2 linked regions of the Homo sapiens genome follow. The protein of the gene in region 1 purifies or fractionates together with the protein of each later gene. This does not show direct contact. Each region holds a gene or a part of one and is shown on either strand. Other genes may lie near its edges. The genes, in order: C1orf159 and SMO.

What was found.
Region 2: the proteins of C1orf159 (region 1) and SMO fractionate together in Homo sapiens (co-fractionation; one large-scale study listed by BioGRID). This does not show direct contact.

The regions. Positions count from the first base shown.
Region 1 is NC_000001.11:1,113,251-1,117,501, forward strand, and holds the start of C1orf159 (uncharacterized protein C1orf159 isoform 2 precursor), read right to left. Parts: upstream 2,840-4,251; 5' UTR 2,810-2,839; intron 1,826-2,809; exon of another isoform or gene 1,772-1,825; intron 1-1,771.
Region 2 is NC_000007.14:129,198,602-129,202,408, reverse strand, and holds part of SMO (protein smoothened precursor), read right to left. Parts: intron 1-3,807. UniProt on the Homo sapiens protein: G protein-coupled receptor which associates with the patched protein (PTCH) to transduce hedgehog protein signaling. Binding of sonic hedgehog (SHH) to its receptor patched prevents inhibition of smoothened (SMO) by patched.

The sequences.
Region 1 (4,251 bases):
AAATTCTTTCTTCTGAGGCAGCGAGAATCGAGGCCGCTGCTGACATACTTTGGTGCTGAAACTCAGATACATTCTGCCAGTAATAGAGCTCTGAAGGCTCACCTGAGCTCCACACTCCACCTCGGCACACGCAACCCTCAGCCAGAGTGGTGAGAAGAGGTGGCTCTTTCTTTTCTTTGTGAAACAGGCTGGAGTGCATCGTTGCGATCTCGGCTCACTGCAGTCTCCACCTCCGGGGCTGAAGCGATCCTCCTGCCTCAGTCCCTCGAGTAGCTGGGACTGTTAGTGGCAGAATATGTCCCACTTCTGACACCAAAGCATGTTAGCAGCAGTGAACCTCAATTTTTCCCTCCTCAGAAGAGTTTGATGGACGGGTAGGAGGCAGAAGAGACCTTAGAGCAGGAGCAACAGTTTATGAAGAAGCTTTAGAGCAGGAATGAAAGGAAGTAAAGCGCCCTTGGAAGAAGGCCAGGCAGGAGACCTGAGAGATCAAGTGCGCAGTTTGACCTTTGACTTAGGGTCTTCCACGCTGGAGGCTTCCGGGGTGTTACGTCTCCCGATTCTTCCCTCGGGGTGGGCCGTCCACCCGCACAGCGGCTGCGGGCACTTGGGAGGGAGCATGCACAGAGTTTACTGGAGTTGTGCGCACGCTCCCTCGAGGCCTTTTTTTTTTTTTTTTTTTTTGAGATGGAGTCTCGCTCTGTCACCCAGGCTGCAGTGCAGTGGCGCAATCTCGGCTCACTGCAACCTCCGCCTCCCGAGTTCAAGCGATTCTCCTGCCTCAGCCTCCTGAGTAGCTGGGACCACAGGCGCCCGCCACCATGCCCGGCTAATTTTTGTATTTTTATCAGAGACGGGGTTTCACCATATTCGCCAGGCTGATCTCAAACTCCTGGCCTTCTGATCCGCCCCCCTCCCCCCACGGCCTTGCAAAGTGCTGGGATTACAGGTGTGAGCCACCGCGCACAGCCAGGGCCGCCTTCTCTTACCAGCCAAATGTCCCTGGTAGAGGGGGGCCCCTCTTCTGCCCTGCTCATGTCTGACTAGCTACCTACTGTAACGGGCCACAGGTGCTTGCCCCCATGCCTGGATAATATTTTTTATTTTTTATAGAGACGAGGTCTCCCTATGTTGCCCAGACTGGTCTCAAGCGATCTCCCACCCCAGCACCCACAGCGCTAGCTGTTCTTTAAATGAGCTACCCAGTAAGTCAAAGCTCAGGTGGAGAGCAGCCGCAAGGCAGGGAGCAGCTGGGAGGTATCTCAGGGGTTCCCGGGATGCTGCCTGTGCACCCCAGGGCTGAGGTGACTGCGTGTGGAAACACCTGCCTGACTGGCTTTTAGGAGGAGTACTGGGGGCGGGATGTGTGTCAGGAAAACAACGTTTCTGTATAATTCATAAACATGTATGTTAAAAACAACGTGGCCATGACGGATCCTGGCTGAATGCAAACGGGGAACATAAACCTGAGTAATCAGGCGCATCACTGAACATCCCAGGCGGCCGCCCCTACCCTGGGGCTCAAAACCGGCTCCCTCTGCGAGGGTTTCCCAGGTTAAGCCATCAGGAAACAGGAAGACGCCTAAGAACGATACACTGGACTTTGGGGACTCGGAGGGAAGGGTGGGAGGGGGACAAGGATAAAAAGCTACAAATAGGGTGCAGTGCGTACTGCTCGGGTGATGGGAGCACCAAAATCTCACAAATCACCACTAAAGAGCTTACCCATGTAACCAAGTAACCAAACACCACCTGTACCCCAGTAACTTACGGAAAAATAAAAGAGGAAGACGCAGCTCTGCCTTCTCTGCACACCCTGGTAATACTAAGAAAAATGAAAACCAAAAAAAGGAGGCCAAGTTTGACATCCTGAAATTTAACAGGACGAGGCGGCTAAGAATTCAGCCACAAAATAGTTCCCGGGGAAGAAGCCGCGTTTGCTTTGAAACGCGGTAAGAAATGCCCCCGAACACCTGGGCTTAAATTACACCCAAACTCAATCATCGACTCGCTGCCACCGGAACACGCGCTCCCGAAAAACTGCACCCCGACTAGCCCTCGGCTACTCCAGGTGACAAACGGACAAAAACAAATCCTAAAGCCTCGCGGGAAAAAGACCTGAATCGTGGCCGACTTCTAGGACACCGGGGACCGCGCCGGTGCCCCCACTCCCGGCTGCCGGGAAGGCGAGGCGAACGCGCCCCCTTTCTTCCCCCGGGCGCCCGTCCCATCCCCTCCCCAGGGACCCCCTCCCTGCCCCGAGAACCCCCTCCCCTCCCCAGGTGCCCCCTCTCCCCCAGAGACCCCCTCCCCTCCCCAGGGACCCCCTTCCCTGCCCCGGGAACCCTTCCCCTCCCCAGGGACCCCCCTCCCTCCCCAGGGACCCCCTCCCCTCCCCAGGGACCCCCTTCCCTGCCCCGGGAACCTTTCCCCTCCCCAGGGACCCCCCCTCCCCGCTCCGGGAACCCCCTCCCCTCCTTAGGGACCCCCTCCCCACCCCTCCCCGGGGTCCCCCTGCCCTCCTCAGACGCCCCTTCCCCTCCCCAGGCGTCCCGCTCAGCCCGGGCGCCTTTCCCCCATAGGACCGCGGCCAGGCTCGTTGGGAGGCGGCGACGAGGACGCGGGCCCAGGCGCTGGCGGCTCCTCCGCGCGCCGCACAATGGGGGACGCGCAGGGAACGTCCCTCGGGCCGGGCCAGGGCCGCCGACCTTTGTCTGCCTCTCGCACTCCCTGCGCCGACCCGGCCGCCCAGACGGACCCCAGCGCCCCAACCCGCTACCCTCACGCCTGCCCCCAGCCCCTCACTCACCCCGGCGCCCTCCGGGTTTCTCTTTCGTACACCCCGCCCTCAGGCGGTGGCGCCGCGCCCCCTGGGACTTGTAGTCTTTCTTCCGCCCCGGCCCCGGCGCCAGGCCCCGCAGCTCCCAAAGAAAACTACAACTCCCGGCGGCCCGCGCGAGAGCCGCCCTCGCCTGGTGGTACCATCGCGCGCGGCCGTGGGTGGGGCGCCGGGGCGGGGCGCGAAGCGCCCTGGGAAATGTAGTCCTAGAAGAACCAGCGCATGTCTCGGGTCCCTGACACGGAGGGACTACATTCCCCCGGATTCCTCGCGCGCCGGCTGCTTGGCGTTGCCGGGAGACGGGGCGGGGCGTCGTCGGGGTCTCCCGGGCGACCGCACAAGCGTCGGCGTCCTTAGCGTTCCGCCGGTTTAGGCGGAGGCGGAGGCGGAGCGTTTGGGGGCGGCCGGGGCGGCTTCGGCTTCATCGGAGAAGGCGGCGCGGCTGCACCAGGTTTGGCCGCGGGCGCGCGGGGCCAGCGCCCTCCAGACCCACGGAGCGCCCCGAGCGCCTCGCGAGCCGCCGCCAAATGCGCCCCAGGTCCGCGGCCGGCGCCAGTGCTGGGACCTCGGCGGCCGGTGTCGGAGCGCGGCGGGAGAGACCCTGCCTTGGGTGCGGGACTGGGACGGCTCGGACCCAGAGGGCTCCCGGGGCTTCGCCTCTCGGACGGGTCAGGGCTCTGCGGTCTCAGGACGCTCCCCCGTGAGTCTCGGCGGCCCCGGGGTCTGGGCGGCGTCGCTGCCCCACAGGCCGGGCGCGTGGGTTTTTCCGGGGCTCTGCCTCTGAGCCACCCTCGGAGAAAAGACAGCTCTGTGCGTCCCGCGGCGCCCGCAGCTTTCGGCAAACATGTTTAAAGGAGCTCCCCGAAGGAACTGGGGACGTCCGTCCGCTCATCAAAGGCTTCAATCCTGTCGGTGTCCCCGGGCCCTCTCCTAGCTGGGCCAGCGCGCAGGGTGGGGGGGCGCTGCAGGTGTCGCGGCCCCCCCCAACCTCCGCAGACCCTTCCAACCCCTCAGACCCCCCAAAACCCCCAGATCCCCCAACCCCCCATATACCCCCAACCCCTCAGACCCCCCAACCCCCCAGACCCCCCAACCTCCCAGGCCCCCAGACCCCCCAGCTCCCTTGCTCCCGGGAGCTCCCAGGCCCGTCCTGCATGCGCCTTGGGGTTGTTCCTCCTTGATGGACGCCGCCTCCGGGTTCCATCCCAAGTTTAAATGCCAGAGATTTCAATGGAAATAAAGCCCCCATCTTAACAGCGTGAGGATGTTTTGTAAACAGTATTGGGGACAGCTGGGGAAGTCACATTTGTGTCTTCTCTTTAGAGGGACAGTGTTCGCCTGAGGGTCCATCCCAGGGTTCCCTCAGGGCCTCTGGAGGAGTTGATGCCACCAGTGTCTGGCCGTGGGACACC
Region 2 (3,807 bases), on another chromosome or scaffold:
CAGGCTGGGGGTGGTAGAGACAGGTAACCACTCTTTTCGGGGGAAGGCAACATAGTAGAGAGGTAAGGGGCATGTGCATGGCAACTGCCCAGCCTGGGTCCAAATCTTGGCTCCACTCTTTCCTGGCTGTATGATCTTGGGCAAAGTACTTTATCTTTAGCCTCAGTTGCCTCATCTGTAAAATGGGGATGATAGATTTACCTCATGGAACTGCTGTGAAAAGTGATATAATGCTTTAAATGCCCTTGGCACAGTACCTGTCATGTAGTAAGCGCTCAGGAAATGTTAACTCTTATGATTATTTGTCTGAGGCCTCTGACTGCTCCCAGCCTTCAGAGTATATTCCAGGGTGCAGAGCAAGTTCCTGCCAGTTAAGAAGCAATGTCCTCAGGCAACAGTTCCCACTTGACTCAATTCAGTCACCAGTTGGCCAGGCGCAGTGGCTCACACCTGTAATCCCAGCACTTTGGGAGGCAAAGGCGGGCAGATCACCTGAGGCTAGGAGTTCAAGACCAGCCTGGCCAACAAGGTGAAACCCCGTCTCTACTAAAAATACAAAAATTAGCCGGTCGTGGTGGTACATGCCTGTAATCCCAGCTACTCGGGAGGCTGAGGCAACAGAATTGCTTGAACCTAGGAGGTGGAGGTTGCGGTGGGCTGAGATGGCGCCACTGCACTCCAGCCTGGGCAAAAGAATGAGACTCTGCCTCAAAAACAAAAAAATAAAAAACAAAAAACCCAAAAACAGTCACCAGAAATTCTGAGTACATAGGTACTTGCAGAAAACAGAGCAGTGGGTGCCAGGGATTGGGGTGAGGGCAGGATTTGCCTACAAAATAGTAGCATGAGAGAATATATGGGGGTTAAAGGACGATTCTCTATCTTGAATTCAATGTGGTGGCTGGTTACATAAGTCTATGTGTTTGTCTAAACTTAGAACTGTACAAGAAAAAGTCAATTTTACTGGATGTTTACTTTTATTGCACAATATATTTAAAATGGGGGGACCTCTCTGGAGTAAAATGCTTTAGAGAAACATCAGGCAGTTAATAAAAAGGTTGTGTCGGCTGGGCATGGTGGCTCAAACCTGTAATCCCAGAACTTGGGAGGCCGAGGCGGGTGGATCACAAGGTCAGGAGTCCGAGACCAGCCTGGCCAACATGGTGAAACCCTGTCTCTACTAAAAATACAAAAATTAGCTGGATGTGGTGGCACATGCCTGTAATCCCAGCTACTCAGGAGGCTGAGGCAGGAGAATCACTTGAACCCAGGAGGCAGAGGTTGCAGTAAGCGGAGATGGCACCACTGCACTCCAGCCTAGGCGACAGAGCAAGGCCCCGTCTCGAAAAATAAAAAAAATAAAGGTTGTGTCAGCCAGGTGCGGTAGCTCATGCCTGTAATCCCAGCACTTTGAGAGGCTGAGGCAGGCAGATCACTTGAGGTCGGGAGTTTGAGACCAGCCTGGCCAACATGGTGAAACCCTGTCTCTACTAAAAAATATAAAAATTAACCAGGCGTGGTGGTCCACGCCTGTAGTCCCAGCTACTTGGGAGGCTGAGGCAGAAGAATTGCTTGAACACAGGAGGTGGAGGTTGCAGTGAGTCAAGATCACGACAGTGTACTCCAGCCTGGGTGATACAGCAAGACTCATTAAAACAAACAAACAAACAACAACAAAAAAAAAACTGTAATTTTTCTCAATCTTTTTATATCTGTGGTAACAATCAGGTTTTAAAAATGTCTAATTTGTTTTCCTTTTTTTCCCTCATTGTGAATATTGTTTCATACCTTAAAAATAAAACTCCCCAGGAAAAAGAGAGATTATTAAATACATCTTCAAGGACAACTAAGAAATTATCTGGGGAAAAAATAAGGTGGAGCTTTACCCCATTTCTTACATAAAAGTCCAGATGGATAAAAAAATAACTACATTGTTTTTCTAAAAATTAAAGTTTTAGAAGAAAAGATGGGAAATGATTTTTTTTTTTGAGATGGAGTCTTGCTCTGTCGCCCAGGCTGGAGTGCAGTAATGTGATCTCGGCTCACTGCGAGCTCCGCCTCCTGGGTTCACGCCATTCTCCTGCCTCAGCCTCCCGAGTAGCTGGGATTACAGGCGCCCGCCACCACACCCGGCTAATTTTTTTTTTGTATTTTTAGTAGAGACGGGGGTTCACCGTGTTAGCCAGGATGGTCTCGATCTCCTGACCTCGTGATCCACCCGCCTCGGTCTCCCAAAGTGGGATTACGGCGTGAGCCACCACGCCTGGCCAGGAAATGATTTTTTAAACCTTGGAGTGGAGAAGGCCTTCTGAAATGACACAAAGCCTACACATCATGAAATAAAAGATTTAAACAAAAGACTTCAGAAAAATCGATACAAAAATCATAAGAAAAGTAAGATACTGAAAAAATGTATTTTCAATACTTATCACAAGAGCTAATTTCCTTATATGCACAAAGCTCCTCCAAATCAGTAAAAATTGCATAATTCTATAGACACACAGGCGAAAGACAAATAACAGATCACATTTTCAAATGTTTTGATCTTTATCACTGTGATAAAAAGTATAAAAGTTTAAAAAAAGAATATTTCGTTGTAGTTTATTCCACATTTGTATTATTAAGAGTGAGGTCGAACATCTCTTTATGTTTTTTTTATTTTTTTATTTTTTGAGATAGGGTCTCACACTGTTGCCCAGGCTGGAGTACAGTGGCATAATCACGGCTCACTGCAGCCTTCAGCTCCCCAGGTTCAGTTAATCCTCCCACCTCAACCTCCTGAGTAGCAAAGACTACAGGCTCACACCACCACACCTGGTGAATTTTTGTATTTTTCTGTAGAGACAAGGTTTCACCATGTTGCTCAGGCTGGTCTTGAACTCCTGGACTCAAGGCCATTTAATGGCCTTTAAAAACATAAAGAAGGCTGAGCATGGTGGTGGCTCACGCCTGTAATCCCAACAGTTTGGGAGGCCGAGGCAGGTGGACCACCTGAGGTCAGGAGTTCTACACAAGCCTGGCCAACATGGTGAAAACCCGTCTCTACTAAAAAACTACAAACATTAGCTAGGTGTGGTGGTGGGCGCCTGTAATCCCAGCTTCTTGGGAGGCTGAGGCAGGAGAATTGCTTGAATCCAGGAGGCGGATGTTGCAGTGAGCCGAGATCGCCATTGCACTCCAGTCTGGGTGACAGAACAAAACTCTATCTCAAAAAAAAAAAAAAAAAGAAAAGAAAATACCGTACTATAAAGAGTGTAGGGATAAACTGGCACTTTTATATTTGTTGGTAGGAATAAAAATTAGTAAACACTTGTGGAGATCACTTTGGCATTATCTACCAAAATTTTATACTAGTACTTCTACTTCACATGTTCACAAAGATAATATAGATTATTCATTGCAGCACTGTTTTGCAATAGCAAAAAAGTAGAAACAGCTTGAATCCATATCCATCAATAGGAGACCAACCAAGTAAAATAATGTACACCATTATAATAGAACACTATTCAGGGTTGAGATATAGTCACATGTTGCTTAACAATGAGGATATCTTCTGTGAAATGTGTCATCAGGCAATGTCATCTTTGTGTGAACATCAGAGTGTACTTACACAAACCTGGATGGTATAGCCTACTGCACACCTAGCTGATACAGTATAACCTATGGCTTCTAGGCTGCAAACCTGTACAGCATGTTGCTATACTGAATACTGCAGGCAACTGTAACACAACGGTGAGTATCAGTGTATCTAAACATATCTAAACATTGAAAGGCTACAGTAAAAATGTGGTATTATAATCTTAAGGG